Regions from separate parts of the Homo sapiens genome. Here all the other regions are linked to region 2. The links come from fine-mapping of genetic effects on gene expression. A gene starts in region 2. Each other region holds a variant in brackets. All regions are shown on one strand. Distances are between the middles of the regions. Region 1 holds the start of CD160 (CD160 molecule). Region 2 holds the start of POLR3C (RNA polymerase III subunit C). Region 3 holds the start of NUDT17 (nudix hydrolase 17).

Region 1 (10,583 bases), 100 kb before region 2:
TCACATTGTCCACACAGAGTGCCTAACACTGTCTGCGCCCACAGGGCAGTCTCCTTTTCTTCCTCCCAACCTCCCCTGCTTCCTGGGTTCTCTCTCACTTCTGGGGTACTTAGAGCTCTTGGTGCATTCTGCTTCTGCTTCATCTCACGGGAATGCAGGCCTCTCTCAGCAGTGTGCTCGCCTTGACAGCAGGCCCCATTCAGTCATCGTCAACCCCGCAGGGCCTGGCACACAATAACCTTGTGAGAAGCGACCAAAAGCAACATTTGCAGAAAACTGTGCATGCAACCGTTTGCAGGATGGACAGACACTACATGGCTGGTGAAAAGGAAGCGCGCTGCGATTCACTTTTGAGCCCTGAGGTCTTTGCAGAACTTTGAGGTTTTTTGCAATAACCAGTATGAATACATGTGTGTCAGCTAGTACTTAAGTGGCCCCAACCTCACTCACCCACAACTCTGGTTGCCTTTAACTTCTCTTCATGTTGCTAATAATCACTGTTTTACAGCTCCTGGATGATAAGGAATGCTGAGTGCTCTCAGAGCCAACCTTTGAAAGGTTCTCATAGACCCAAGGAGGGAGAAGTCTCCATTTTAGAGAGCAGAGAGGTCATCTGTTTGAACACTATCATAGAGACAGCAAATAAGGATACTGGGAGAGCAGAGACCAGGCCCAGTTTAGCAGTTTATGCCAGTGGGACCCAGTATCCTGTGGGCTGTGGTGGACTGGTCCTGTGACCAGGATGATGGTGAGACACTCCTCTTCCCAACATGGGTTCCCAACCCCCAGGCTCCCAGAATGGACTCATTCTGCAGTGAAAGCTAACACTTTGATGGAGTGAAGAAGTATTTCTTTTCTTTTTTCTTTTTTTTTTTTTTTTAGAGACACAGTCTCACTCTGGCATCCAGGCTGGAGTGCAGTGGCGCAATCACGGTTCACTGCAAGCTCCGCCTCCCGGGGGGTCACACCATTCTCCTGCCTCAGCCTCCCCAGTAGCTGGGACTACAGGCACCCACCACCAGGCCCAACTAATTTTTGTATTTTTAGTAGAGACAGGTTTCACTGTGTTAGCCAGGATGGTCTCAATCTCCTGACCTCGTGATCCACCTGCCTCGGCCTCCCAAAGTGCTGGGATTACAGGTGTGAGCCACTGCGCCTGGCTTGGAGTGAAGAAATATTTCTAATATCTGTCTCATTTGACGATGGCTTCAGTGGAGCCATCTGGGAGTTCTCAAACCCCAGAGCACCCTACTGTTTTTAGGACCACAGAGTACTACAATAACAGGAATAAGAAGGAAAAGAGAGTCTCTAGACTAGTTATGAAAAATTTTCCCCCACCCTCCCTCCACCCTTGAATTCCTGGGTAGCCTGGCACTGGGTGGCAATCATGACAGGTGTTCCTCCAGAACCGTGGGGCTTCCTGGTGTGCTGTGCCCTTTGGCACAGGGCCTGGCCCAGCCTTGCAGGACTTAGAGCCCAATGCTTCTAATTCTCAGACTAATGTTCCTGCCATCTAAGGGCACAACCCTAGAATTTAGGAACAATTGTAATCTCCCAAGCCATCACTGACCAAGGAAGAACAGAACAGAATAGAAATGGATGGGAAGCTGGGAGTGGTGGTTCAGGCCTGTAATCCCAGCACTTTGGGAGGCCAAGGCCAGAGGATTGTTTGAGCCCAGGAGTTCAAGAGCAGGCGGGGCAGCATAGGGAGACCTCATCCATACAAATCATTTTTAAAATTATCAACCGAGCGTGGTGGCTCACGCCTGTAATCCCAGCACTTTGGGAGGCCAAGGCAGGCAGATCACTTGAGGTCAGGAGTTTGAGACCAGCCTGGCCAACATGATGAAACTGTCTCTACTAAAAATACAAGAATTAGTCCAGCATGGTGGCAGGCTCTCGTAATCCCAGCTACTCAGAAGGTTGAGGCAGGAGCATCACTTGAGCCCAGGAGGCAGAGGTTACAGTGAGCTGAGATCACGCCACTGTACTCCAGCCTGTGTGACACAGCGAAACTCCATCTCTAAATAAATAAATAAATAAATAAATAAATAAATAAATAAATAATAAATAAATAAAAAGTTATCCAGGTGTGGTGGCGTACACCTGTGGTCCTAGCTGCTTGAGGGGCTGAGGTGGGAAGATCACTCGACCCCAGGAGGTCAAGGTTGCAGTGAGCCATGATTGCCCCACTGCACTCCAGCCTTGGTGACAGAGCAAGACCCTGTCTCAAAAAAAAAAAAAAAAAAAGGAAAGAAAGAAAAAAGAAAAAGAAAAAAAATGGGTGGGTGGGAAGATAAGGTCAGTCATTCATCCTCCCCCCACCACATCAGGACCATTTTGGTGCCCCCACTCGTTGCCTCCCCTGCTCACCACCACCCTCACCCAAGCCTTCTTGACAGCTCCCTGACCTTCTTCCCTTTCAGCCTGGAGCAGCTGTGTTCTCTGTCCTACTTCTAACCAAAACCTACTCTCAGGAGAAGACTTGGTACCTTTCTTTATACTTGAGAGGACATTCTGTCCTTTTATCTTCTAGTTATTCTATCATCAGTCCTTTCCTTATTATGAATTAGCAAATACAAAATCTTTGTTCCCCAGGGTAAAGAAAAGAATTTTAAGAAGTGGTTTTTCTTAGCCCCCTCAGCACCCTAGTCTATTTCTAACACCAAAAAGACAAAACAAGGGAGAGGAAAGGAGAAGGAGATGGAGGACCAGTTGCAGGAGAGAAAGGAGAAAAAAATCCACAGTGGGGGTGGCGGAAGATCTATGACTTCTAACAACCCATTCTGTGGTTTTCAAAGAGCGAATATAATAACAGCTATGAAAGTGTGAGCAATGACGAAACTGGAGAGATAGGGTTTTAACAAGATGCAAGGACAATCTGAGGACTGAGAGCCATTTCAACGTGAGCCCCCAGTCTGAGAACAAGAAAGAAGAACTTCTGTCTCGAGGTAAAAAGGCCTGCTGGGGACCTGGGGTCCAGGTGAAGGGATGGGATGGTTGACAGAACTGCTCAGGTGAGGACAGGCTTCTCATGAGGTCCCTGAGAAACTTGCCTTTTGGAGGGAAATGTCCTCTGCCCTCTGGAGCCTGGGGAGAAGGTTATTTCTGCCCGCCAGACCAGCATGCTCGCTTTTCTTCCATGGGCATTCAGGAATCCTGGCCCCATTCTGACATTCCTCAAATGGAGGAATTCCTCAAATTACCAGAGGAAAGTTACCAAAGTTTAGATCTGCTGGAGCTCTTCAAGGATTGGCCTGAGACAAGCCGGGAGGTGCCACGGGGCTTGGAGCTGGCCCTGTGAGGCACCTCCGGGGGAAGTTCATGTCCTAGGTGGTTCACGTCATGGACCTCTTGGAGGTCCGTGAATAGATTTATTCATGGGATTTGTGAATTGGGGGGAAAAATACATCTTTATTTTCACTAATCTTTAATTGAAAGTCAGCACTTGCTTCAGTTATGAATGTAGACAATGAACCACAATAGAATTTGCCATCAATAGAAAACACAAATATTTTCAAATCTCATTACAGTTTTTATAGATTTCTCCAAATGTCCTTAACGCTCAGCACTACTACAGAATTACAACAGTTATTAGGCTGATGTCAAATCTAAAGAAGCATGTGTACTGCTCTACCACACATTCTTCTAATGTTTTGACAACTGTCTTGTCATAATTTGTTCCCTTTATTATCCCATGTATCTTATTAATTTTTAAATGTTGTTCTGAGAAGGGACTCCATATGCCTTCCCAGACCACCAAAGAGGTCCATGGCGCCTTTATGTCAGGCACCTGCTTTGGTGTGTTGAGCAGGAAGCCTGAGATCTCAGACAAGAGCTTCAAGGGCCCCCCAGCCCAAACCTCTGTCTACTAACAAGTCTGGTTCTACTTTAAGGCAGTTGGGGTTGTGGAGATTGAAAAAGAAGCCCCTTCACAGCTGCAAATGAGATCTTTCTGGGCATCTTTTTCAGTGTCGTGGGAGATCTGTATACAGAGGTATTTGTGGAGCTCAGAGCTGACCTTCCAGCTCCTCTGAGAGGTTAGATCCGGGCTCCGGTGGCAGAGGAAATGGAGACTCTTCCTTGCCCTCTTGTCCCCACCCTCCCCAGAAAACCTCTGGCAAAGCTTTATGTGTCATCTAACCGTCACCACATTCCTATGAGGTAGTTTTAAACACAAGAGGAATGTGAGGCTGAGTGAGGTCCAGCAATGTGCTGGTCACACAAAGCTTGGATTTGAACCCAGGAGTCCACAAGACTCCAGGACCGCCTCCGAAGGTGCGGGAGGGAAGAGTTTCCCGCCGTCTGTGAGCTGTCGCCTGAGAGAGGCACCGAGCCCTGGGGCCACCAGCGCAGCTCAGGAGCCCCGGGGACCATCAAAGATGAGGATGCCAACTCCACGGGCACCCTCCCCCCTGCCCGCGCTGGGGCTCACAACGTTTTAAGAGGGGAGACCCGCCCCTGGCGTGTAGTGGGCCCGGAAAATTCCCAGACTTCTCACGACCACCCGCTCTCCCCTCTGTTGAGGGCCAGGTGCCGCTCTAGTACATGCTGCGTCCCCAGGACCCACCAGGCCCAACTTTGCACCCCCTCATCTCCCCTCCTAGTTTAGACTTTCCCTGGCTAGCCCCCATGCTCGCTGGATGGCCCATGGCTGGAGTGACGCGGGCCAACGCGGGGCAGGTAGGGGGTCACTCGGCTTTGGCTGAAAGGCAGCGCCCTCTAGCGGCCAGAGTGCGAAATCAGCGCCGCCGGCTCCGCGCTGCCCCGCCTGCATCACAACAGGGTGCTCCCCTCCCGGGCACCAAGGTCACTTCCCAGAGCATCCTTGCCCAGTGACCTCGCTGCCCCCCAGCGCTGGTGAGGGGCCCACAACAGACTTACATGCTCTTCTTCAACTCGGCCCTAGGCACCGCGAAGTCTGGCCACTCCAGCGGAGTGACCAGCTGCATCAGCCCCTCCCGCCTGTCCTCTCTCTCCTTGGAAGCGGTCCCTACCCTGCGCCCCTCCCATCCCGCTGCACCAGTCCCTTAGGAAACACGCCTAGAGAAGGGACACGACCTTGTCAACATTCCACAGCTACCTAGTGCGGAGCCAGGACTGGAAGCCAGATCTCCTCAGCCCATTCCCCACCTTAATTCACCCACCGTATTCTTTAGTCACCAGCTCCCGAGAGCCCACAAACAACTATGAAGGCCTAACTTCATTGCCATCTTGCAGCCTTTCCACATCCCTCATCCAGAATTTCTCCTGTGCTGCCCCTTGACACTTTATGACCTTATTACTTAGTACAGTCGTTCTTGTGTTAACAGCTGTTCGTGAATGGATGAGCGGCTGTGAGGAGAGGGACAAAGGGGACTCCAAGAGAAAGACTCTCATAACTTGGGTTAGAGTCCTGCTCCCCAACTTAGGAGCTGTGATTTTAAGCAAGTCACAAGTCCCCTCCAAGCCTCTATATGCTTCGTACAAATAATAAATTTTAGAAAATAATAATGGCTTAGTGTTTTATAAGGACTAAACACAGTCTTGCAGGTAGATGTGCCTGGAACACTGTCCATTGATTCCAATATAAGAAAGCATAAAACTAATCATAGCTATCATTTATTGAGCCCTTACTCTCTGCCAGGCACTGTGCTAAGTAATTTACATAGGTGACCTCATTTGACCCTCACAACCCAAGGAAGAGAATATTTTGTCACCATTTTATAGGTCATTAAGAGATTAAGAAACTTGCCCAATATTACACAGATAGTTAAGTTTCAAAGCCAGATCTGAAACATCCTGGTCTGACTCTAGAGACCATTTAACCACTAAAACGTC[C/T]GCCTCTGCTGTGTTAGTGATCTCTCTGTGCCCCATGGTGTCTGACACATTATAGATGCTCCGTGTTTCTGAAATATGTCTATTTATTAAAGGCTGAGCATAGCGCCTGGCCCAGGAGCCTAAGAAACTTGACCGAGTCATGCAACTATTAAGTTTTTTTTGTTTTTATTTTTGTTTTTTCGAGACAGAATCTTGCTCTGTCGCCCAGGCTGGAGTGCAGTAGCGCGATCTCAGCTCACTGCAAGCTCCGCCTCTCGGGCTCACGCCATTCTCCTGCCTCAGCCTCCCGAGTAGCTGGGACTACAGGCGCCCGCCACCACGCCCGGCTAATTTTTTGTATTTTTTTTAGTAGAGATGGGGTTTCACCGTGTTAGCCAGGATGGTCTCGATCTCCTGACCTCGTGATCTGCCCACCTCGGCCTCCCAAAGTGCTGGGATTACAGGCGTGAGACACCGCGCCCGGCGCCACTATTAAGTTTTAGGACCAGGATTTGAACACAAACACTCTGGCTCTAGAGTCTACGCTTTTTAACCATAATTCTGGGCTGAATGAATAATTGCAATCCTTCTTTGTCTTCCTCTTTGAATAAAATGATTTGTCATTTTATTCATTTATCCTCTTTGTCACTTAATATTCCATGTTTCAAGAGTCACCAGGACATTCTGGTGTAGCATGAAGGTATGATAACACAGGAGAAGGAACAAGGAGAGGTCAAGGCTAGGAAAGGACATTGGGGCCATACCATGAGCTGCTGCTGGGATGTTTTATTAGGATTGTGACAAATGTATAGATAAGTACAGAAGAATTTAACAATCGTCTCTACTTAGATTTTCTTTTATGTTCCTTAATAGTACTGTATAGTTTGTATCCTATAGGTCCTATTCGGAATGTTGTTACATTTTTCTGGACATTTGATGGGTTTTTTGGTTGCTATAATGAATGGAACTTTTCCTTCTACCATATTTTCTGACTAATAATTATATCCAGGAAAATTTTTAATCTTATGTATTAATAAGTACCTTATTAAATTGTATGTATATACACTAATTTAGTTTATTGTTTTATACAAACTATAATTACATAACATTCTATTCTGTGGATCTGCAATAATTTATTCAACCATTCTCACCAGTGGGTCTTCACCTGTTTCCTTTTTTTATGGGGGCAGGAAGGCGACAAAGTTTTGCTCTGTTGCCCAGGCTGGAGTGCAGTGGCGTGATCTTGGCTCACTGCAATCTCTGCCTCCCAGGTTCAAGCAATTATCCTGCCTCAGCCTCCTGAGTAGGTGGGATCACAGGCACCTGCTACAACACCCAGCTAATTTTTGCATTTTTAGTAGAGCCAGGGTTTCACCATGTGGGCCAGGCTGGTCTCGAACTCCTGACCTCAGGTGATCCGCACGCCTCCCAAAGTGCTGGGATTACAGGTGTGAGCCACCACACCTGGCCTTCACCTGTTTCTATTTTTTTGGTATTATAAAAAATGCTGCAGTGAATATCCTTGTACATCTATACTAGCACACTCATGCTTTTATTTCTGTAAGCTATAGCCAAAGGGACAGGGTATGTGCATTTGAAATGTTAATATATAATGAGTATTCCCCCAAAGCTCCGTAACAATGTATAGTTCTACCTAGAGTGAATGATTGCACATATTTCTTCTTACCCTTACCAAAATTTGATTTATCTTTTAAATTTTTGTTCACTTAACAGGTGGTAATTCTGAAATTCTGAACTCTGAATTTTTAATTTGTACTTCCCTGAATACTTGTAAAACTGAAAAACTTTTTATTGCATTTCGTCTTTTGTGAACTGCCTATTCAGATACTCTTTTATTGTTTCTAATAATTCTCAATTAAGTTTCTTGGGTTTTCTAGATGTAAGTTATATCACATATAAATAGTAATAAATTTGCCTTAAGATTTCCAATATTTATACCCTTTGCTTTATTTTCTTGTCTAAATATAATGGCAAACACTTTCAGAACAATGTGAAATAACAGAAATAATAGGAAGCATCTCTGCCTTGCTCCTAATATTAATAGAAATTATCCCATATTTTACCATTAAATATGATGCTGCAATTTTATCTGAGATATACATTTCTCCATTATATTGAATAGTATTCATCCATTACCATTTTACTTAGGATTTTAGTGGGAATTAATGTAAGATGTTATCAGAAGGTAATATTGACTTTCTTTTTTATCCAGTAGTATGTTAATTAATAGATTTCCTAATATTAAATCATCCAAGAATTTCTAAAAATGAAACCTTATTCCATTTGTCATGGTGTATTATATTTTTAATATCTTGTATGATTGGTTAATTTGTGTGTGTGTGTAATTTTTGATTTTGGTTTTCTTGAGACAGGGTCTCACTGTCAACCAGGCCAGAGTGCAGTGAAGATCATACCTCACTACATCCGTGAACTCCCGGGCTCCTCCCACCTAAGTCTCTTGAGTAGCTGGGACTTCAGGTACGCACCACCACACGTGGCTAATTTTTGTATTTTTTGTAAAGACATGGTCTCACTTTGCTGCCCAGGCTGGTCTCAAACTCCTGGGCTCAAGTGATCCTCCCACCTCGGCCTCCCAAAGGCTTGGGATTACAGGCGTGAGCCACCGCAACTGGGCCTTTCAATTTTTAAAAATTTAAATATAATATTATAAAACAGAATACAGCAGCACATGAAAAGAATAACATACTAGGCCGGGCGTGGTGGTTCACGCCTGTAATCCCAGCACTTTGGGAGGCCAAGGTGGGTGGATCACAAGGTTAGGAGTTCAAGATCACCCTGGCCAAGATGGTGAAACCCCGTCTCTACTAAAAATACAAAAATTAGCCGAGCGCAGTGGCAGGCGCCTGTAATCCCAGATACTCGGCAGGCGCCTGTAATCCCAGATACTCGGCAGGCTGAGGCAGGAGAATCGCTTGAACCCAGGAGGTGGAAGTTGCAGTAAGCCAAGATCGTGCCACTGCACTCCAGCCTGGGCGACAGAGTGAGACTCTGTCTCAAAAGAAAATAACAACATACTATGACCAAATGGCTTCAGTTTTTGTTTGTTTGTCTGGGACTGCAAAGATGTATCAATTTTAGGAAATCTATTAATGTAGATCGCCATCTTAATATATCTTAAAGAAAAATAATATCATTTTAGTTGATATTTAAAGGCAATTAATAAAACATTCACATCCATCCTTGACATTTTAAAACTCTTAATAAAATAGAAATAAATGTATATTCCTTAACATAATAAAATACATCTCATTCTCAAAGCTACTATAATACTTAATAAGGAAACATTTAAGCATCCCCCATTAAACTTAGAAAAAAGACAGAGATTCATTATTACCATTATTATTTAATATTTTTCTGGAGATATTAACCAACACAATTAGAAGAAAGAAATCAGAGATATAAAATAGAAAAGGAAGTAATTATCATTATGTACACATAATATGATTGCATAACTGGAAAATCCAAGAGAATCAACTGAAAAATGATAGAATTAAGGGAGGGGAGCTGGGTATGAAATTAATATCTAGTAAAACAAATAGCCTTTCATATATGAACAATAATGAAAAATTAAAAGATATAATGAATGATATAAAGAGACTGAAAAAATAAGTTAAAAGATACAACGAGTGGAAACAACAGATGCTGGAGAAGATGTGGAGAAATAGGAATGCTTTTACACTGTTGATGGGAGTGTAAATTAGTTCAACCACTGTGGAAGACAGTGTGGGGATTCCTCAAGGATCTAGAACTAGAAATACCATTTGACCCAGCAATCTCATTACTGGGCATATACCCAAAGGATTATAAATCATTCTACGATAAAGATGCACAAGTATGTTTATTGTGGTACTATTCACAATAGCAAAGCCTGGGAACCAACCCAAATGTCCATCAATGATAGACTGGATTAAGAAAATGTGGCACATATACACCATGGAATACTATGCAGCCATAAAAAAGGATGAGTTCATGTCCTTTGCAGGGACATAGATGAAGCTGGAAACCATCATTCTAAGCAAACTGTCACAAGGACAGGAAACCAAACACTGCATGTTCTCGCTCATAAGTAGGAGTTGAACAATGAGAACACATGAACCCAGGGTGGGGAACATCACACACCGATGACGTTCCACGGGTGGGGGCCCGGGGGAGGGATAGCATTAGGAGAAATACCTAATGTAAATGACAAGTTGATGGGTGCAGCAAACCAACATGAAACATGTACAACTATGTAACAAACCTGCACATTGTGCACATGTACCCTAGAACTTAAAGTATATTAAAAAAAAGATATAATGGGTAAAAGATGACATTTTCAATAGTGAAAAAATATGAATTACTCAAGAAACAAACTTAGCTAAGAAATGGACGAGGACTTTATGAAGAAAACTTCTATACATACCTGAGACACACATATTTGAAAAATGAATATCACATTCTCGGATCAAAAGAATCAATGTCACAACAAATTCAGTTCTCCCTAAGTTAAAATATAAATTGAACATATCCCAATTTTAAAATACCAATAGGACTTTTTCTTGATGGTACACACAGTAGGAAGGGCAAGACTAGACAAGCTGATTATAAAAATCAGAAAAATAAATTTATAGAAAAATTCTTGTTTTCCCCTTTTGAATTTTAAATGCTGTGAATGTAATTACCACTTCAAAAGTTATAAACTACAAAACCTTAAATATATTTTTAAAACACATACACACATAGAGAGGATTTTTTAAAATAAA
Region 2 (10,583 bases):
CCCTGTCTCAAAAAATAATGAAAAATAAAAAACTTACCAATCAGAAAAGGCCCTGGACCAGACGGACTCACAGCCAAACCCCACCAGACACGAAGAAGAGCTTGTACCAATCCTACTGAAATTATTCCAAAAAATCGAGGAGGGACTCTTCCCTAACCCATTCCATGAGGCCAGCAGCATTCTGATACCAAAACCTGGCAAAGACACAATGAAAAAAGAAAACTCCGGGCCAATATCCCTAATGAACACAGACACAAAAATTCTAAATAAAATACTAACAAACTGAACCAGCAGCACATTAAAAAGCTAATGCAGGCCAGTGTGGTGGCTCACACCTGTAATCTCAGCACTTTGGGGGGCCAAGGCAGGCAGATCACTTGAGGTCAGGATTTCAAAGCCAACCCGGCCAACACGGGGAAACCCCATCTCTACCAAAAATACAAAAATTAGCCAGGTCTAGTGGTGCAAACCTGTAATCCCAGGTATCTGGGAGGCTGAGGCACGAGAATCGCTTGAACCCAGGAGGCAGAGGTTGCAGTGAGCTGAGCTCGTTCCACTGCACTCCAGCCTGGGCTAAAGAGCAAGACTCCATCTCAAAAAAATAAATAAATAAAAATTAAAAGCTAATCTACCACAATCAAGTAGTCTTTACTCCTGGGATGCAAGGTTAGTTCAACATAGGCAAATCAATAAATGTGATTCATCACATAAACAGAATTAAAAACAAATACCACATATCAGGCCAGCCGCAATAGCTCATGCCTGTAACCCCAGCACTTTGGGAGGCTGAGGCAGGCAGATTGCTTAAGCCCAGAAATTTGAGACCAGCCGGGGCAACATGGCAAAATCCCATCTCTACAAAAAAGAAAAAAAAATTAGCCAGGCATGGTGGAACACACCTATCTACTACTACTCAGGAGGATATAGTGGGAGGACACATTGAGCCCACAAATTCAAGAACAGCCTGGGCAACAAGACAGAATAAATTCTGTCTCTATTTAAAAAGAAAAAAAGAGGCCGGGTGCAGTGGCTCACACCTGTAATCCCACCACTTTGGGAGGCCAAGGTGGGCATATCACAAGGTCGAGATGGAGACCATCCTGGCCAACATGGTGAAACCCCGTCTCTACTAAAAATACAAAAATTAGCTGGGCATGGTGGCACGTGCCTGTAGTCCCCACTACTTGGGAGGCCGAGGCAGGAGAACTGCTTGAACCCAGGAGGTGGAGGTTGTAGTGAACCGAGATCGCACCACTGCACTCCAGCCTGGTGACAGAGCGAGACTCAGTCTCAAAAAAAGAAAAAGGGAATATACTGTATATTTGAAAATTGCTAAGACAGATTTTAAGTGTTCTCACCACGCAAAAATAAGTATGTGAGGTAATGCATGTTAAATAGCTTGATTTAACCATTCAGTGTATACATATATCAAATCATGCTGAACACTATAAAAAATATAGTATACAACTTTTAGTTGTGAAAAAAACATGATTTATTAAATATTTCTCCCTTCTTCATCAACTCCCTCTTCCTTTTGCTACCTCACAGTCTTTGGAATTCTCAATCTGAAATGTACCCATCCCTCAAAACTCAATTTAAATCCCACTGGCCACACCAATGCTATGAAATTCCCCTCTCTGAATCCTAAAGCACATATCCTCATTCCCTTTATGCTGTTACTTTTTCTATGTTTGCCTTGTCTTTCCCCAAAAGCTGTAAGATCCTTAAGGGCAGGAGCCACATATCACTCCCTATCACCTCCAGGACACTCAGCAGAGAACCTTGGATATATTTAGGAAGAATCCGGTTATACTCAATTGTGTTAGGCCTCAATTTACAAATCAGATATGACAAATAATATATCACACCAAAAAGATCAAGAAACTTCTCCAGGCATTAACTAAGGCTTAGAAAAACACCTATTCAGCTTTTCAAATTATCCCTTTGAAGTAAGGACTTAAAGGTGAGAAGAAAAGATATAATCAATTGGGGAAGTTTAGACTGTCTTCTCACTCTTTTTTTTTTTTTTTTTTTTTTTTTGAGACAGGGTCTGGCTCTATTGCCCAGGCTGGAGTGCAATGGTGCGATCTCAGCTCACTGCAACCTCTGCTTCCTGGGGTCAGGCAATCCTCCTACCTCAGCCTCCTGAATAGCTGGGACTACAGGTGCATGCCACCACACACACGGCAAATTTTTTTATTTTTTGGTAGAGACGGGGTTTCTCCATGTTGCCCAGGCTAGTCTCGAACTCCTGAGCTCAAGCGATCTGCCTGCCTTGGACTCCCAAAGTATTGGGATTACAGGCCTGAGCCACCACGCCTGGCCAACTTCTCACTCTTAAAGGCAAAATAGTGAACAGCAACTTAAAGATCAAAAAAGCTAAGGATGGAATATTCAACAAGGCATCACATTCAACAACACACCACTGGTCACACACATACTGGCTGAATTCCAGACTCCCTCTCTATGGTAGAAGAGTTCTGCAGGCTCTGATGTTGGCTGGAAAAAAACTAGACACCTGCTCTTCCCAGCACTGAAATATGGCCAAAAAAAAAAACATAAACACACAGCAAAATCAGCAAACAAAGCTAAGTAGCATTTAGGCGGGGAGCAGTGGCTCACGCCTGTAATCCCAGCACTCTGGGAGCCCGAGTCGGGTGGATCACTTGAGGTCAAGAGTTCGAGACCAGCCTGGCCAACATGGTGAAACTGCATCTCTACTAAAAACACAAAAATTAGCCAGGGTGCGGTGGTCGTGCACCTATAGTCCCAGCTACCCGGAGGCCGAGGCAGGAGACTCTCTTGAACCCGGCAGGTGGAGGTTGCAGTCAGCCGAAATCATGCTCCTGGGTGATAGACAGAGGCTGTCTCAAAAAAAAAAAAAGAAAAAAGAAAAACAGCTAAGTAGCATTTAGATGAAACTATGACTCTGAAGTAGGGGGTGCGGCAAGTAGAGAGGAAAGAATGTATCATAATGCCTTAAACAAAACTTTTGAGTGAGAGAAGACTATAAAACACCCTTTAAGCACTTATTCACTGGACTCCATTTGTGTTTCTAAGAAATAAGATATACAGACTCACTTCAGAAGGTTTTCTCCTACACTGTATCTGAGACACCATAAATAGAAACATACATTATGTTGCCACTCTATCACAAGACTGAACCTGGACACTTGTAAGGAAAGGAACAACCATAAAGACAGTTGGCCAAGGACAGGATTGACATTCACTCTGGGGGAGCTCCTCGTAGTAGCTACAACCCAACCCAAAACAGTTTCTGGGTTTGTGATGCTGGTGCTGGCTAGTATGCTGCATAAATGTTGTTTGTTTTTGTAGAGAGGGGTCTCACTCTGTTGCCCAGGCTGGTCTCAAACTCCTGGCCTCAAGCAATCCTCCTGCCTCGTCCTCCCAAAGCACTGGGATTACAGACCTAAGCCACCGCGCCTGACCTACAAAAGTGTTTTCTTCCCAACCACAGCACTGCCTCTCAAGGGGCTAACACTCTGGCAGAAACTCGTGAAAACCAATTTCACGTCAGAGGAAGCATCCCCAACATTCTGTCCCGGCTCTTTTTCTTAGGTGAAGAAAGGGACAGGGCGGGGGGCGGAACAATGATATTAAAGACACTGGCAGCATGACAACCAAAATAAACGAAGTTGAAACAGTACGTCCTGCCTTCTTCCTAAAGCCATTTCCTTCAACAGTGATAGGAGTGCAGACCGTCTGCAAGTCATTAGTACGCTGCTGTCTTCACTGTCACAAGGACCCTGGAAACCACTGAAGAGCAAAATCCCCCTTTTCGCCCCACAGATACCTTCCAACCCCCTTTCTGTGCTTCCTTCCCTAGAAAAAACCGAAGAGTGACAATCCTCAGCAATCCGCTATTTCGCTTCACTGACAAGGGAGGTGGCGGGGGCGGTGGGGGGTGAAAAGTGGAAAAGAACACAGAGGAAGGTGAGAAGACACAGTGGAAGAAGTGTGGGGGGAGGTCATCGTAGGAAAAAGACCAGGTATAAAAGAATGCAAGAAAATTGAGGGGAGAGTTATCAGAGGGAAACTTGCTAAGAAAAAAAAAAATTAAGGACACGGGAGGTAAAGAGGTGAGGTCAGGTGGAGCAGCCCAGGATGAATTAAGAGGTGGGCAGGAGGTACGGGGCCGAGGCCGTGATGCCCAGGGTTTAGGGCCGGCGGCTTAGAAGTGGGCAGCAGGTATTCGGCAGACCGATGTCGGGCGAGTCAATGATGTGCAGAAAGCTCCAGACCCAGTTCCGGGAAATCGGGGCCAGGAATCTATGAGGTTCCCAAGTATAGAGAACACAGCGCTCTTACCGGTAGTTTGGGGCTGACCTCGCCCTTGCAAAAGTGGCAGAAAAACCGGTGGGCGGCTACAGCGGCGCCCGAGTCCGCCCCGGCCGCCGAAGCCTCCGCCATTTTTGCCCTCCGCCGCGGCCGTCCGAGAGGGCAGCCGGCCCGTCCCTCGCCAGGCCGCTACCTCCCGAGCTGCAGTCGTCGCCGCCGCCGCCGCCTCGGTGCGGCCCACCGCTTCAGAGCCCGCGTCGGTCACGTGAGTTGGCCAGGCCCAGAAACGCGGCGGCGCCAACAGCTACCCTGCGGCCCGCCTCCCAGCACCAAAGAGGCGCAGGAAGGAGAGACAAACGGCCCGCCCGCCGGCTCCACAAACAGCCCCTCGCTGGTCCTCCAGTCTTCCAGCGAGAAGAAAGAAAGAGCGTCCCCGGAAGCCGCCGAAACTCTGGGGTAGAGTGGCACGCGCTTTTTGCTTTTCCGCGTCTTCTTCGGTGGCGATCCGCGTCCTAGAAAGGGCGGTGGGCTCCACCTCGGCCTAGAAGGCCAGCGGGAGCCGTAGGAAGCCGTCGCGGGAAGCTCAGCCGAATTGGAGTTGGAGCCCCCGGATTGCGCTGACCCTGAGGTTAGTGGAAAATGCTGTCTGAACGTGGCGGCACTGACTGGACCAAGAGACCACGTCCGAAACGGGAACCTGTGTAAAGGAAGTGTAGAGCTAGGAGCCAAGCGCCTTGGAAGCCCTTTCCGAGGATGGCAAAGGATCTGGGAATGCTTCTCCAAAGATATGTGGATGGACGAAATAGGTCTCTGGTGATACTGAGGCGGGGTGGGGACGGGGAGGCAAAGACTTGGCTTCTTAGGAATTGGAAGAAATAAGTAAACAATGTTTGGTAGCAATTTGTAATAAGGAAGTAATCATAAAATTAACTACGTCCGTTTCTGATTGTGTCAACTTTGTCAAGGAGTAGAAGTTTAAGAATTGAATACTGTCCTGCAAACAACGTAACCTCATCTCCTGTTTGACACACCCTGTTGAGAAGCAGTCCTTTACCTCCTAAATTTCTTTTTCGAAATTATCATTTCCTTTATGGACTGAGAATAACACTGCCTGTTCACTCCCACCGAGCTGTGAACAGTGACCTTAATTCTTCCAAGCAGTGAAGTGTAGAAACTAAGGTCTGTGACAGACCGCAAAATCATCTCCCAATCTTTAAGGAAAATCAGAATCACGCATAATCCCATAGAGATAAATTTGATGCATAGTCTTTTCCTATGCATACATTTTTCCTTTTTTTTTACAATAATTGAATTTTTATATTTTTTCAGCTTGCTTCTGTCACTTAATATATTATGAGTAATTTTTTTTGTTTTTTTTTGTTTTGGAGACAGAATCTCGCACTGTCGCCCGGGTTGGAGTGCAGTGGCGCGATCTCGGCTCACTGCAACCTCTGCCTCCCGGCTTCAAGCGATTCTCCTGTCTCAGCCTCCCTAGTAGCTGGGATTACAGGCACCCGCCACCACGCCCAGCTAATTTTTTTGTGTGTTTTTAGTAGAGAAGGGGTTTCACTATATTGGCCAGGCTGGTCTCAAACTCCTGACCTCATGATACGCCCACCTCGGTCTCCCAAAGTGCTAGGATTACAGGCCTGAGCCACCGCGCCAGCCTATTATGAATAATTTTCTACATGAATACGCATCGTACTAAATAACTTTAAATGTTGGTGTAGTATGCCATTGTATGGGTATGGCATCATTTATTGTTAGACGTTAGATTGTTTCCACTAAGTCGGTATTATAAAGAGAACTAATGACTTCATTATTATTAGCTTTTTCTTTCTTTGGACACAATATCCAAAAAGAAATTGTTGTTTCAAAGATATGCAAGATTTTTAAGGCTTTTTGATATGTATTGTCAAATTGCCCTCCAGAAAGAATACATGAATTTACACTCAGCAGCTCTGCTTCCAGCGTGAAAGACTTTCTATTGTACCATTTTGGTGTTTTTTCCCTAGCTCTCAGACTCCCCAGTACAATGACTCAAGCAGAAATTAAGCTCTGTTCTTTGTTGCTGCAAGAGCATTTTGGAGAGATTGTAGAAAAAATTGGAGTCCATCTGATAAGAACCGGCAGCCAGCCACTAAGAGTAATTGCCCATGACACAGGAACATCACTGGATCAGGTATGTCTAAATGACATTCATTTTCTCTCATTTCTTTCACTAATTTATTTCACCCACCTTTGAATATTGTTCTTCTCACCCCAGAAAAGGAAAAATGAAGAAAGCCTGCCCTTGGAGCAGAACAATGTTATTTCGGGGAGAAAAGGATGAGACTTAGACATCAACATTTTGTTTCTCAAAGTGTTCCTAGTTCATCACAGCTTTTAGGCAAATCTTTGCTCTTCCCATGCCGTACCTCATTTATTCACAATAAGTCTATTAATCTCAGTACTGCCTTTAAGGAATGAGAATGATGAAAGTAAATTGTGTTTTGAGAGATAAGGATCAGAGGAAATATAGCAAGGAATCTTCCTGATTTATTGTATTGATGTGTGATTCTTATTAGCTCCTCCAGTGGAGAGAGGAAATAAGTGCAGAAATTATCTAGCCATTTTCTGATGCTTACTAAGCTGTTGGACAAAAAATTGCCAGCAGTAATGAGCTATATCTTCAGGTCTTTCCTCTCTTTCTTCTCTTTATGTTCCATTTAGGTGAAGAAAGCCCTGTGTGTCCTCGTCCAACATAACCTGGTGAGTTATCAAGTGCACAAACGTGGTGTGGTGGAGTATGAAGCCCAGTGCAGCCGGGTATTGCGAATGCTTAGATATCCCCGGTACATCTATACTACCAAAACTCTGTACAGTGACACTGGAGAGCTGATTGTTGAGGAGCTTCTGTTGAACGGCAAACTGACAATGTCAGCTGTTGTGAAGAAAGTGGCAGACCGGCTCACAGAGACCATGGAGGGTCAGTATGGTATCCATAGCTGTTAACAAAAGCATAGATCAGCTGGCTATGGGAGTGAACCCTGAGCTATCTTAGGCCATCTCATCTGCCTTTTTCCTCCTGTTATACAGATGGCAAGACCATGGACTATGCTGAAGTATCAAACACATTTGTGCGACTGGCAGACACACACTTTGTACAACGCTGCCCTTCGGTACCTACCACTGAGAATTCAGACCCTGGGCCACCACCACCTGCCCCCACACTTGTCATTAATGAAAAGGACATGTACCTGGTTCCTAAACTCAGCTTGATAGGTAAGGAATTTTAACCCCTGGAACTGTGACTTGCCTTAATTGTGGATTCTTCTTGATTGTCAAGTGTATGAAATGTGATTGTATTTACCAAGTATTTGCTATGTGCCAGACATCGTGGTGTATAACAATGAAAAAATCATGGTCTCTGCCATGGGGCTTTAGTATAGGAGACATACATTAATCGGAAAATCACATCGATATATCATTAAACGGTGATAAGTACTATGAAGGAAATATTCCTATGAAGGAACTGTCATAGTATTATGAGACATGCATTAATCAGAAAATCACATCAGTATATAATTAAACTGTAATAAGTGCCATGAAGGAAAAGTATGAGGTGTTATGAAAATATATAATGGAGACTTTGGGAGACTGAGGCAGGCGAATTGCATGAGGCCAGGAGTTCGAGACCAGCCTGGGCAACATGTTGAAACCCCATCTCTACTAAAATTATAAAAATTAGCCAGGTAGCCGGGCATGGTGGTTCACGCCTGTAATCCCAGCACTTTGGGAGGCCAAGGTGGGCGGATCACGAGGTCAGGAGATCGAGACCATCCTGGCTAATACCGGGAAACCCCGTCTATACTAAAAATACAAAAAATTAGCTGGGTGTGGTGGCGGGCATCTGTAGTCCCAGCTACTTGGGAGGCTGAGGCAGGAAAATAGCATGAACCCGGGAAGCGGAGGTTGCAGTGAGCCGAGATCGTGCCACTGCACTCCAGCCTGGGCAACAGAGCCAGACTCCGTCTCAAAAAAAAAAAAAAAAAAAAATAGCCAGGTATGGTGGCATACGCCTGTAATCCCAGCTACTCGGGAGGCTGGGGCAGGAGAATTGCTTGAACCCAGGAGACAGCGATTGCAGTGAGCCAAGATTGCACCACTGTACTCCAGCCTGGGTGACAGAGTGAGACTCTGTCTCGGGAAAAAAAAAAGAAAAGAAAATATATAACGAGAGACGGGATTCATCTGGGAGTTTAGGCCTCATGTTTCTTTGAGAAGGTGGCATTTGAGCTAAGATTTGAAGTAGAAGCTAACAGTGAGGTAACAGGAAAAGCATTTTTGGCAGAGGGAATAGTATGTAGTAAAAAAATAGCATTTGAGGAAATGAAAGAATGTCAGTATAGCTAAAGCATTGTAAGCAAAGCAAGAGAGGCATGAGGTAAGGTTAGAGACATAGCTAGGCAGGGGTCTGATCTCAGAAGCTAATCAGGATCAACCTGCTTAGTACTTGGATGGGAGACAGGCAGGGGCTGAATCAAGTAAGACCTTATAGAGCATCTGTTCTTTATGCTAAGAGCAAAGGAAGACCACTGAAGGATTTTTAAGGAAATGACATGATCTAATTTGCACTTTCAAAAGATTTTTTGTCTACAGAAAGGATGGGAGAATGGGGCAAAGGTAAATGTTGACAGACTGGTGGAAAATGAAAGAGAGAGGGTGAAGGAAACAAGTACTAAGAGTGACATCTGTGTGTCTGACTTGCACATGTGGGAGGATGATATCACTGGCCATGAAAGAGAGCATTGGAGGAGAAAGACTATAAGACTCTTTTTGAACATGTTGAGTTTCAGATTATTTCATCAGTTACTTGAGTTTCTTATAGCTCTTCAGCCCCCTAAGCAACTCTGATCTAGAGGCAGCTACAGATGTCTTTGGAATGAAAGACACCTGCTCTCATGTTTGGTCATTTCCTGTCATCATATGAGATATAGTCTAAGTGTTTAATTGTTTGTTTGGCAGGGAAAGGTAAAAGGAGGAGATCATCTGATGAAGATGCTGCTGGGGAGCCCAAGGCCAAGAGACCAAAATATACTACAGATAACAAGGAGGTAATGGGGCTTCTTGATTAGAAGTCCTCACCCTGAAGCAGGCCAGAAAGAGCACTCAGATAACAAGCCCCAAGAGAGCTTAAAGCTTCCTGAGCTAAGAAGCAGTAGGATTATGAACCTCATTAAATATTAGGAATAGACTAACAAAGAATGAACCATTACTGTCTCCCTTCTGAGCCTTAACTTAATTCTTTCATTGAACAGAGGTAACAGCTTATGTAAAAAGGGGCCTAGAAAAAGTTTAGGTTGCTCAATATGGCGAGAACCTAAAGACCTACAGGGGCCAGTGATGAAAAATGGGTCTAAAAACTATACATAGGCCTGAACTCATATTCAAATGCCTTCTTAGCGTACCTATAAAGATGTCAGTAAGCATCTCAAATTTAGTGTGGCCAAAACAGAATAATTGATTCCTCCTCCCAAATATCTTGCTCCCTCATAAACTTCCTCATCTTAGTAAAAGACACTACCACGTAGGCCAGCCGCCTAGGACACCACCATTTCTGCTTAAGCCAAAATCCTTGGAACCCTCTAATCTCACAGTAAAACATATCAGCCCAGTTTCCAAAATTACCTCAAATCCAACCATTTCTCATCTTTTCACTGCCATCTCTCAACTCTTTGCAAACGCTTTCGTTAATGGTCTCCCTAGCTGCATTCTTACCTACTTAGTAGCCAAAATGACTTTCTAAGTTGTTCAAAACAAAACAACACATCCACTGATTAGACTCCTTTAATAGCTTTCCTTTACTTTTAGAAGAAATCCAAGGTACGGGCTAGGAAGCCTTACGTGATCTAGGTCTTCGTATGATCTGCTGGAGACAGGGCTCTTCAACCTCACCTCTGCCCCGTCTCCATCTTACTCACTGTGTTCCCTCTACTGACTTTATCTCTTAAACATGTCAAACTCTTTCTGGTCTTTAGACTTTGGCTCCGGCTTCAAATGTTTGTCCCCAGATCTTCATGTAGTGGTCTCTGTTTTTATCATTTCTATCTTAAATGCTGTTTTCATAGACTTCAAGCACCATTGCCCACTCCTACACTAGTTCCTACCACATTTCTCATTTCATATACTTCACAGCATTTATATTTATAACTGGAATTATTTATTATTTGTGTACATGTTTGTCTAAGAGGTTTGGGCTTTATCCTGAAGGCAAAGGAGAGCCATTGATGGATTTTAAGCAG
Region 3 (10,583 bases), 24 kb after region 2:
AGTACATAAGTACCAGGAAGTATTAGGGGTGCTACAGTAGAAGAGTAAACACTATGTACAGAGAGGCCAGAAAGGGAAAAGGGTCAGGCAGGGAAGGGAACACAGAGAGTGACAATGTATAGTTTGAAAGATGAGGATGCTTTATTTGCAAACTATCTTAACAAGGGATTCGTAACCAGAATATATAAGGAGCTCAAACAATAGCAAAAAGAACAATCCAACTTAAAAATGGCCAAAAGATCTTAATAGGTAGTTTTCGAAAGAAGATACACAAATGGCCGACAGATACATCAAAAAATGTTCAACATCACTAATCAGAGAAATGGAAATCAAAATCAATGAGATAACATCTCACCCCAATTCATTACTTTTATCAAGAAGAAAGAATGAATGCTAGTGAGGATGTGGAAAAAGGAGAGCCCTGCCTGGTACACTGTTGGGAATGTAAATTGGTACAGCCACTGTGGAAGACTACAGAGGTTCCTCAAAAAACTAAAAACAGAACTATGCTCCAGCAGTTCCACTACTGGGTATATATATATCTCCAAAAGGAAAGAAATCAATGTATCAAAAAGATACCTGCACTCCCATGTTTATTGCAGCAGTATTCACGATAGCCAAAACATGGAATCAACCTAAGTGCCCATCAATAGATGAAAGGCTAAAGAAAATGTATTATTCAGCCATAAGAATGAATGAAATCCTGTCATTGGCAGCAACATGGATGGAATTGGAGGTCATTATGTTAAGTAAAATAAACCAAGCACAGAAACAAATATTGCATGTTCTGTCTCACATAGGAGCTAAAAAAGTGGATCTCAAGAAAATAAAGAATAGATTGGTAGTTACCAGAGGCTAGGAAGGATGGGGAGGATGAAGAGAGGTTGATTAGTGGGCACAGATAATACAGTTTGAAGAAGTAAGACTGGTGTTGGATAGATCAGGGTGGCATAGTTATTAATTTACTGTACATTTCAAAACAGCTAGAAGATAATTTTGATGGTGCCTAAATCCTGTAATCCCAACACACTGGGAGGATCAGTTGAAGCCAGGAGTTCAAGAACAGCCTGGGCAACAGTGAGATTTCATCGTTACAAAAAAATTTAAAAATTAGCCAGGTGTGGGTAGTGCACATCTGTAATCACAGCTACTCAGGAGGCTGAGACGGGAGAAGCGCTTGAACCAGGGAGGTGGAGGTTGCAGTGAGCTGAGATGGCGCCACTGCACTCCAGCCTGGGTGACAGAGCGAGACTCCGTCTCAAAAAAAAAAAAAGGCCGCGCGTGGTGGTGGGCGCCCTGTAATCCCAGCTACTACTTCGGAAGCTAAAGCACGAGAATCGCTTCAACCTGGGAGATGGAGGTTGCAGTGAGCTGGGATCACACCAGTGCACTCCTGTCTGGGCTGTAGAGTGAGACTCTCAAAACAAAACATCACTCTGGCAGCACTGTAGAGAATGAACTGGTAGGGGCAAGACTATTTGGAGACTTGCAATAATATTTCAGGCAAAATACGAGGAAGGCTTAAACTAGGGCAATGAATGAAGGCTGGAGAGAACATGGGTTTGAGGAAGTTTAAGGAGATAGCATCTGCATACTTGGTTGCCATTTGAGTGAAGTGAAAGGAGAAGTGGTATCGAAAATGTTATTTGGTGTGTTTCGCTTGGAGATAATTAATTCGAAGTGATGCCTGCTGTAACAGGTGTGCATAGTGCTGTAGAGGATGCTTACAGTTCAGCTTAGGGCTGGTTGGAAGTAACATGTGGGTCCTGAAGTCATTCGGTCTGGGGGTCATTGTCCTAAACAGAGAAGATAGGAAGGAATAGGAGCTGAGCATTTAGAGGTATTCTTCTTTGTGGTTTAATATTATACCCATGGGTCATCCTCAAAAGATGTGCCCTTATTTCCCCGGGGACTTTCGGAAACCCCGCTACGACCCCGCGGAACGTTCCGAGGGGAAGCTTCTCTAGGCCACCAGAGGGCGCCAGGCGGGCCGCAGCGACTCCAGAGTCGCGTTATGGCCGAGGTGCGGGTGCAGCTGCTCCTGTCCCGGCGTCCGGAGTCGGTGAGCTTCGCACGGAGTGTGTGTGGCCTCCTGGGAGCCGGACCAGGGCTCGGGACGTGGCCCATTCACTGCAGCTTGAAGCGAGGACGGCTTGTCCTCTCGAGCAGGCCCTTCCCAGGCGCCTCCGCTAGGCTTCCGCTCCAGGTCGGCAGAAGGGGGCCCCAGAGCGGGGGCAGTGAAGGGCCAAAGATGGGGACTGAAATCGGGTGGGAACTGGCGGCGAGGACCCCGCCCCCAACGCGCGGTGTAGCCCCATTTTTGGAAGTCACGCCCACCCAGTGCCGCCCTTCTGAAGCCTTAACCCAGCTGGCTTCCTTCTGCCAGCGACCCCCTTTCTGCCCTTTTGCGGCCCTGGAGGAGCGGCCCAGGGTCCCTGGGGCTGAGCTGCCCACAGATCGAGGTGTGGACCTGGGTGTGGCCGTCATTCTGCAGTCCAGCGACAAGACTGTCTTGCTAACCCGAAGGGCACGCACCCTGAGCGTTTCCCCCAACCTCTGGGTACCCCCGGGTGAGTATTCTGGGGACAAGGCCCCAAGTACAGAGAAGAAATTTGCCCTTTCCCCGCAACAATGTTTTTCCCAGTCTCAGAAGGATAAAGTGGGCCCCAAAATGTGGCATGTTCATAGTCACAAGGGACTGCAACTCCCTCTGTGTCCACTGGAGGGGAGAGGAGTGTCAACAGTGAGTGGGGGCTCCCTGGCCAAGACCACCACCATTCACCTACTGGCCCCACTGTTGTTGCAGGTGGGCACGTGGAACTTGAGGAGGAGGTAACCAGTCAGCTGATCCAACCTGAGCCAAGAGACCCATGCCTGGGACCATCTTGGGTGTGGGCTGAGGGAGAGGCAAGCAAAAGGACTTGGAAGAGTCAGGCACTGGCCCCTCTGATGTGTCTTCTCTGACTCCCAGCTGCTGGACGGAGGGCTTCGAGAACTTTGGGAGGAGAGTGGACTACACCTGCCCCAGGGCCAGTTCTCTTGGGTCCCTCTGGGTTTATGGGAGGTGAGACAAGTAGCTGGGAGAAGCTCCTCCATAGATCAGCCCCTACCTGCCTTGGCTACAAGGGAAACAATAGCACATAAGTGGGCTGGAATCCCCAAATCCATAACCCTCACCCATGTCCCTGCTGTGTCATCTGTACCATCCACGCCCTCAGCTTTTGGCCACCATTTTGTTTCACCCTAAAGCTGTATTAACAAAGTCTCAAAAAGTGACACAAAGGGCCGGGTGCGGTGGCTCACGCCTGTAATCCCAACACTTTGGGAGGCTGAGGTGGGCGGATCACCTGAGGTCAGAAGTTTGAGACCAGCCTGGACAACATGGCGAAACCCCGTCTCTACTAAAAATACAAAAATTTTAGCTGGGCGTGGCGGCAGGCGCCTGTAATCCCAGCTACTCTGGAGGCTGAGGCTGGAGAATTGCTTGAACCCAGGAGGCAGAGGTTGCAGTGAGCCAAGATCACGCCATTGCATGCCAGCCTGGGCGACAAGAGCGAAACTCCATCTTAAAAAAAAAAAAAAAGTGACGGAAAGTTCTCACTTTTGCTGTTTTCTTTTCCTAGTCTGCCTACCCTCCTAGGCTGAGCTGGGGTTTACCCAAATACCATCACATTGTTCTGTATCTACTCGTGATCTCCCAGGAATCACAGCAGCAGTTGCAGGTAGGGCTGGCAGTGAGGGAAGGAAACAGGGCTCAGGGGAGCCCAAGCAACCTGGTTCTGACTGTGATTAGGAGCTGGGCGGGGGTGGCGGGGGTAGTCAGAGATAACGAAGAATATGCAATGCCCTTTCCCCTTGCTCCTGCCTTTCTCCATGAAACCTGCGGGTAGGTTTTGATCACGAACAGGCAGCCCAGGGAGAGGCAATGACTGAGGGGTCACCATGTCTGACCCCAGGCCCGGATCCAACCAAACCCAAATGAGGTGAGCGCCCTTATGTGGCTGACACCAGATGTAGCTGCTGCAGTGGCTGCCGCAGAGGATGGGACAGAGACACCCGGACTTCTCCCCCAGGACCTACCACCCTCTGTCCTGTAAGTAAGAGCTTCTCCCTCAGCCTCTAATACACCAACATATTCATGTTGAGAAGTTCAGCGTCTATCCTGTCCTCAGGATGGAATTTTGTGTTGTGGGGGAGATTTAAGGAGAGTGGGTCAGCTGATAATTAAGAAGGTACATGAAATCTAAGACACTGACCATCAAACCCCAAAGATTCTTGCTCTAACTGGCTAGCATTGAAGGTCTAAGTGTCAGTTCTAACACAGGGGCAAGTCATTTAACCCTCCTTGAACCTGTTTCCTTTCTGCAAATGAGGTCAACACCCACCCACCTCCTGTGGTAGTTGGGAGGATTCGGGGACCTAACATATATGTAAGTTCTTTGTAAGCTACAAGGCACAGCCCCAACAGGAGTTGTCACCATGCAGTGCAGTGGAACTAGAGGAGGATGGAAGAGCCCGACCTCTGGTCCTGCACATGTCCACCCTCCTGCGGATGATCCCAACCATGGCAGAGGACAAAGAGAGAGTCAGCACTGGAACCAAGTTTGCCCTCAAGCTCTGGCTGCAACATCTGGGCAGGTAAAAGTGAAAAAGGACTGGAGAGCTCCACAGTACTGGGCTGGAATGGTCTAGTTTTTACAGGCACGGGGGAAAGCAGGAAAGGACAACCTCTCTTGGAATTCCTCCACAGAACACCCCCACCGTGTAAAAGTGCAGCTTACCTGGACCCAGGGCCAGCAAAGGAAGAATGGAACATGGACCCTCTTCCCCCAAACCAGGGGTCTGGAAAGTGAAGTGTAAAATCCCCTCCCTAGCCCATCTCCATGACACTCACAGAACATTCACAACCTTTATTATGGGTGAGAGCTTCACTACAACTTTAGAAATAAAAAGTAAAATTACAACATAGGTCCTAGGCCTTGGCGAGCCTGAAAAAGAAGATTGGGAAGGAGGGCACAGGGTCCTTCCACCTCCCTGGAAAGGTGCAGAATGAGCCAGGCCTAACTACAGGGCCATGAGCCTCTAGAAGCTTAGGGGGGAATAAGAAACACTGTGAACTTAGATATATAAATAGAGAGAGACCCAAGCAATAGGCCGGGCCTGACTCCCAGACCCCTGCAGATCATGGCTAAGGCCTTACATCCTCCTCTGTCATACTGGAGTAGGAGGCAGGGGAAGTCATCTTTGGAGTATTTTGGTTTTTCTTATTTATGTACAAAAAAGTCCACATCCACAATCCAAAATAAAGTTCTCTGTCCATCTCTGAAACTGCCTGTCTCAGTTTTTCCACCTGTCTGTTTGGCCGAAGGGAATGGAATAGACATGAAGAGACAATGGATGTGAAGAAGAAATAGAGCCATGGGTTTGGGTAATAAGAAGAGAGAGCATTTGGGGTTCAAGAGAGGTGCCCCTTCCCCAAGAGGCTCTAGACATAGTCAAGGCTGAGGGTTCAGCCCTTCTCCTAGCTCACATACCATCCCATTTGCCTCCCACTGCCTAGGTTAACATACCCAAAGGAATGTGCCACCATCTAAAGAACATTTCCAGA[A/C]ACAGACCCCAGTGTCCTTAAAAAGAGGTTAAATATTAACCCTTTGGGTGCTGGCCTTGTCAGGCAGAGATGAGGCCAAAAGTAGGCATCTGTGAAGGTCTGTCTGGCCCTTGGCCAGAGCCCCCAGAGGGATCAGAGTAGCTGGGGTTGGGACTCCACAGCATACTTGCTCAGTGTTGGGGGACAGCGAAGTTTCCATAATCCAGGGAACTCAGTCCAGGGAAATGATGTCTGACCGACAGCCAGTCAAAGAGGGACCTGAGGGCAGGGGTCCTCCATGCCCCTCCCTCAAGGCCCCCCCAGGGGCCACAATGCTGCTGACACGGCCAGGAGGGGGCGCCGGAGTGGCGCTGCAGTGGGAGCTCCCCAGCGTGGGGGCCAGTGGGCCCAGAAAGTGAGAAGGGGTCCCTCGGTACTGGAAGAAGTGGCCAAGGGCATCCTGTTCATCTAGTGAGGTGATGACAGAGGGGCCATAGTGCTAGGAAGAATCAAGGGCATAGTTTAAGATCTCAATCCCGACTTCCCCACCTCCCAGTCACTCATCTCAGAAATGCCGTATGAGAGCAATCAACCCCTGTGGATCCGAAGGTATTCTCTTGAGAAGCAGGAGAGCCTCTCCCTCTTTCCCCTACTTCCCTACACCCTTCCCCTTTCCCTGCCTTGAGAGAGCTCCTCCAACTTGTTAGGTTCTTGGCTTTGTGGGCGTCTGAAATGTGTGGAATGTCCGGTTAGAGCAGGCATGGTGCTCTAAGTGCACACGGGGGTAGGGGTGAGTAGGCCAGGGCAGAAAAGTAACAGGGGATCTAGGAAGGAGGCCTAAGTAGGAATCTCAGGAACTACCAGTGGGGCTGAGGAGATAATAAGATACCTACACCCCACTGCCCTCACGGGAAAGCAGATTTACATCCCCAGAGATCATAAGAGAGGGAGGGGCCCCATCAGTGTCTAGAAAGGAAGCTTCAGAGATCTGAGACCTTCTGAAGAAAGAACCACTTACCTGACTCTCTGTCTGAAGAAATGAAAATAAATCTAAACCTGGCAGGAAAAGAAAAATCAAAATTAACCTCCTATCTGACCCCTTTACCACCAAAAGACAAAGCACTGTGGACTGTGGCCCCTTGCAGGAGAAGCAGGAGGCTTTGAGAAGGAACAGGGGTTCTGATGTAGCTCTGGGGAGGGTGTGGCAGTGCAGGGTCCATCTTATGACCCATGTCATACCTTGGATGTCGGCTCCCAGTGGGAAGGCAGGTGGGTACTCATGTAGTGGGAGACTGGACAGGAAATCCCCACCCAACGTGCCCATAGCAGGGCTCCTTAGCACCGAGGATGGCTGGTGGCCAGATGTCAGGACTCTGTGGGTAGAGAGGAGCTGAGGCAGCCAGCAAACCACAGATGCCCTCACCCAGCTCAGGTCCCCAGGTTCCCTCTCTGTCCCCTCCACATTTCTCTTGCCCCAGGCTTTGTCCAATGATCAGAAAGCAATCCTGACTTCTTCCCCTGTCCGTTTTGCTGTAGACTCAGCCTATTTTCTCATACCCTTTGCTTCCAGGTAGGGCCGGGATGGCAGCTGAGGTGACAGAACAGTGCTTCTTGGTAGGGGGCAGATCCTCCTCATCTGATGAGCTTTCTATTGTCAAGTCAATAACTTCGACCTTCTTCTTATTCTCTGATGGATCTCCCCCCTGGACTGGGCTGTACTGGAGGCCTGTGGGTATTAAGAAGACTACGTCTCAGAGAAGAGGCCATCCAAGATTTAGCTTAGCTGGGGAACAGGGGGTCACTCACCATCCAGCCCATACCCTGGCGGGGGGCAAACCTCAGATGCCTCCTTCTTGGGTTTCATTGGGCACCAGGATCCATCTTCCATGAATTGGATCTCATCACAATCTGAACAGGAACTAAGAATCTCCATAAATAAACTGGGGGAAGAGAGAGATGAAAATTCACGGGGCTGGGAGATGAGCAGAACAGTAGCCAGAGTTCTGTAACTCACCTTCCTGTATCTCAGTTTCCTCATCTGTAAAATAAGAACATTATCCATCCTACTGGACCGCTCTGAGTTGTTGGAATCAAATAACACAAGGTATGTAAAAGAGCTTTGCAAAGTAAGTAATAGGTTTTAAAATAAATACAATCTGAGGCTGGGTGCAGTGGCTCACGCCTTTAATCCCAGCACTTTGGGAGGTACAGGCAGGTGAATCACTTGAGGCTGGGAGTTCAAGACCAGCCTGGCCAACATGGTGAAACCTCATCTCTACTAAAAATACAAAAATTAGCCAGGTGTGGTGGCACATGCCTATAATCCCAGCTACTTAGGAGGCTGAGGCACGAGAATCGCTTGAACCCAGGAGGCAGAGGTTGCAGTGAGCCTAGACCACACCACTGTTCTCCACCCTGGGAAACAGAGCAAGGCTCTGCCTCAAAAAAAAAAAAAAAAAAAAAGCCGGCGTGGTGGCTCACGCCTATAATCACACTTTCAGAGACTGAGGTGGGTGGATCACCTGAGGTCAGGAGTTCGAGACCAGCCTGGCCAACATGGTGAAACCCCATCTCTACCAAAAATACAAAATTAGCCGGATGTGGCGGCACATGCCTGTAATCCCAGCTACTCAGGAGGCTGAGGCAGGAGAATTGCTTGAACCCAGGAGGCAGAGGTTGCATGAGCTGAGATCACGAGACTGTGCCATACCACTCCAGCCTGGGTGACAGAGTGAAACACCGTCTCAAAAAAAAAAAAAAAAAAAATCTGAGCACTTACGTGTAGTATAAGGAACAAAAGGAGCAGAGACACAGAAGTCCATAAACCATCTCCAAAAGGCACTGGGTCTTTGGCTTTCTAAACACTTGTGTAAAAATAAATAAATAAAGGCACTAGGGGCCAGGCATGGTAGCTCATGCCTGCAATCCTAGCACTTTGGGAGGCCAAGGTGGGAGGATCACTTGAGGCCAGGAGGTCGAGGCTGCAGTGAGCTATGATTGTGCTACTATACTCCAGTCTGGGCAACAGAACGAGACCCTGTCTCAAAAACAAACAAACAAACAAAAAGTGGGGGAGCACTGGGAACAGGAACCATAATGTAGATTCCAAAAAGAGGTTAAGACTAGCAAGATCAAAAGATTAGAACATCCAGGCCCTGAAAAGAACCTTATTGCAATGCTCAGTGGGAAGTCAGGTAGTTGTTATAGGTGATATATTATGACAGTTCAGTACACTGGCTCTGCCACTTAACAATATAACCTTGAGCAAGGCTCAATCTCTCTCGGCCTCAGTTTCCTCATGTGTAATGATACTACCTATCTCATAGGGTTTTTTTTTTTCTTTTTTTTTTTCTGGGTGAGTGTCACTAGCCAATCATAGGATTATTTCTTTTTTTGAGACAGGGTCTCAATCTGTTGCCCAGGCTGGGGTGCAGTAATGCAATCATAGCTCACTGCAGCCTCAAACTCCTGGGTTCAAGCCATCCTCCTGCCTCAGCCTCCTGAGCAGCTAAGACTACAGTCATGAGCTATTATAACATGCCTGGCTAATTTTTTTAATTTTTTATAGAGAGAGGGTCTACTATGTTGCCCAGGCTGGTCTCAAACTCCTAGCCTCAAATGATCTTCCCATCTCAGCCTTCCAGTGTTGGAATTACAGGTAGGAGCCGAGTCCATAGGGTTATTGTGAGGATTCAATGAGATAACTCATGCAAAGTGCTCAGCAAGATGCCTTGTATATACTAAGTCCTTAATGTTGCCCTCCCCCTCCACACACATGCACATACACACACACACACACAGACTGGTAAAAGGGATAGATAAGGTGAGAATTGCAGTTCATGTGAGGGGAAGTAAGCCATATGAATTAAAAACCCTGAAGGAGGTGGTGGCTAAAAGAAAAAAGAAATATTATAGGCTGGGCATGTTGTCTCATGCCTGTAATCCCAGCACTTTAGGAGGCTGAAGTGGGCAGATCACCTGAGGTCAGGAGTTCAAGACCAGCCTGGCCAACATGGTGAAACCCAGTCTTTACTAAAAATACAAAAATTAGCCAGGCATGGTGGTGGGTGCCTGTAATCCCAGCTACTCAGGAGGCTGAGGCAGGAGTATCGCCTGAACCCGGGAGGTGGAGGTTGCAGTGAGCCAAGATTGTGCCACTGCACTCCAGCCTGGGGAACAGAGTAAGATTCCATCTCAAAAAAAAAAAAAAGAAAAGAAAAAGAAAAAGAAATAACCAAGAAAAGAGGTTCTAGTGGATGTCCTAGGTAAGAGGAAGCAAAATGGCCCTACCCATCAATGATAAGAGATTCATAGGGAGCCTTCTTGTCACACACAGGACATGTCCATGTAGGCTTCTTCTCATTCATCTGTAGATAAAGGGCAGCATCGAAGCTCTGCAGGTGGGCGCAGGTGAGGGCACGACAAGGGACAGTCAGGCGCATCTTCCCTAGCTGAGGAGAAGCAAGTTCTCTTGTCAGAGGCCCTACTCTGATTTCATCCCAGAAAACTTCACGCCAGTATCCCTAGGAACCCTCATCAAAGTCCACAGGCTAAACCCAACTCCCTTCCCACCCTGTTCCCTTCTCCCCTTTTACCCACCGGGCACATGAGTGACACCCGGAGACTTGTAGTGGCCACCTCACTGTCAGGGTCAGCAGTCAATTTCTCCTTGACTGAAACAAAAGTGAGGCCAGAGCCATGGGGTCAGCAAGGCTGGAGGAAGCCCAGGAGTTGGTAAGGCCAGGAACAGATGGCTCTGGCTGAGAGGCTGCTGGGTGGAGCGTCTTTGGGGGCCAGTGGGACGTCACATGGAAGTGGTCTGGGATATGGATGATGAAGGCTGGGTGTGGGGGATTTTCCCATCCCTGAAGATGCTTAAACATAGCGTGACACTCTGGCTATGTTAGAGATGATCTGGAGGAGTTGAAGCATCATGTGAGGGTTAGATTAGAGGACCCCTAAGATTCTTTCCAGTCCGGAGAGCCCATATTCTAGC

What was found. PIP is the estimated chance that this variant, and not a neighbour inherited with it, causes the effect.
Region 1: its variant is fine-mapped to the expression of POLR3C in whole blood (TOPMed, PIP 0.97).
Region 3: its variant is fine-mapped to the expression of POLR3C in whole blood (TOPMed, PIP above 0.99).

The regions. Positions count from the first base shown.
Region 1 is chr1:145,716,609-145,727,191 of GRCh38, forward strand. CD160 (CD160 molecule) reads left to right here and starts at 2,891. Exons shown (of 6, transcript NM_007053.4): 1 at 2,891-2,951; 2 at 8,193-8,298. The variant C/T (reference allele first, on the strand shown) is at 5,821.
Region 2 is chr1:145,819,443-145,830,025 of GRCh38, forward strand. POLR3C (RNA polymerase III subunit C) reads left to right here and starts at 4,758. Exons shown (of 15, transcript NM_006468.8): 1 at 4,758-4,927; 2 at 6,315-6,481; 3 at 7,012-7,267; 4 at 7,378-7,563; 5 at 9,307-9,395. The coding sequence starts at 6,335. RNF115 (ring finger protein 115) reads right to left here and starts at 4,653. Exons shown (of 9, transcript NM_014455.4): 1 at 4,330-4,653. The coding sequence starts at 4,431. RefSeq lists enhancers at 4,619-5,018, 9,158-9,217.
Region 3 is chr1:145,843,627-145,854,209 of GRCh38, forward strand. It overlaps NUDT17 (nudix hydrolase 17), which reads left to right and starts at 2,004. Exons shown (of 8, transcript NM_001012758.3): 1 at 2,004-2,206; 2 at 2,387-2,570; 3 at 2,807-2,832; 4 at 2,972-3,064; 5 at 3,624-3,722; 6 at 3,957-4,093; 7 at 4,486-4,638; 8 at 4,751-5,328. The coding sequence starts at 2,015. The coding sequence ends at 4,853. PIAS3 (protein inhibitor of activated STAT 3) reads right to left here. Exons shown (of 14, transcript NM_006099.3): 8 at 10,187-10,260; 9 at 9,878-10,038; 10 at 7,394-7,527; 11 at 7,145-7,313; 12 at 6,827-6,960; 13 at 6,606-6,643; 14 at 4,896-6,086. The coding sequence ends at 5,820. It overlaps MIR6736 (microRNA 6736), which reads right to left and starts at 7,019; the gene lies at 6,961-7,019. It overlaps POLR3C (RNA polymerase III subunit C), which reads left to right. Exons shown (of 15, transcript NM_006468.8): 15 at 1-776. RefSeq lists enhancers at 1,078-1,207, 1,988-2,357, 2,408-2,667, 6,055-7,254. The variant A/C (reference allele first, on the strand shown) is at 5,609.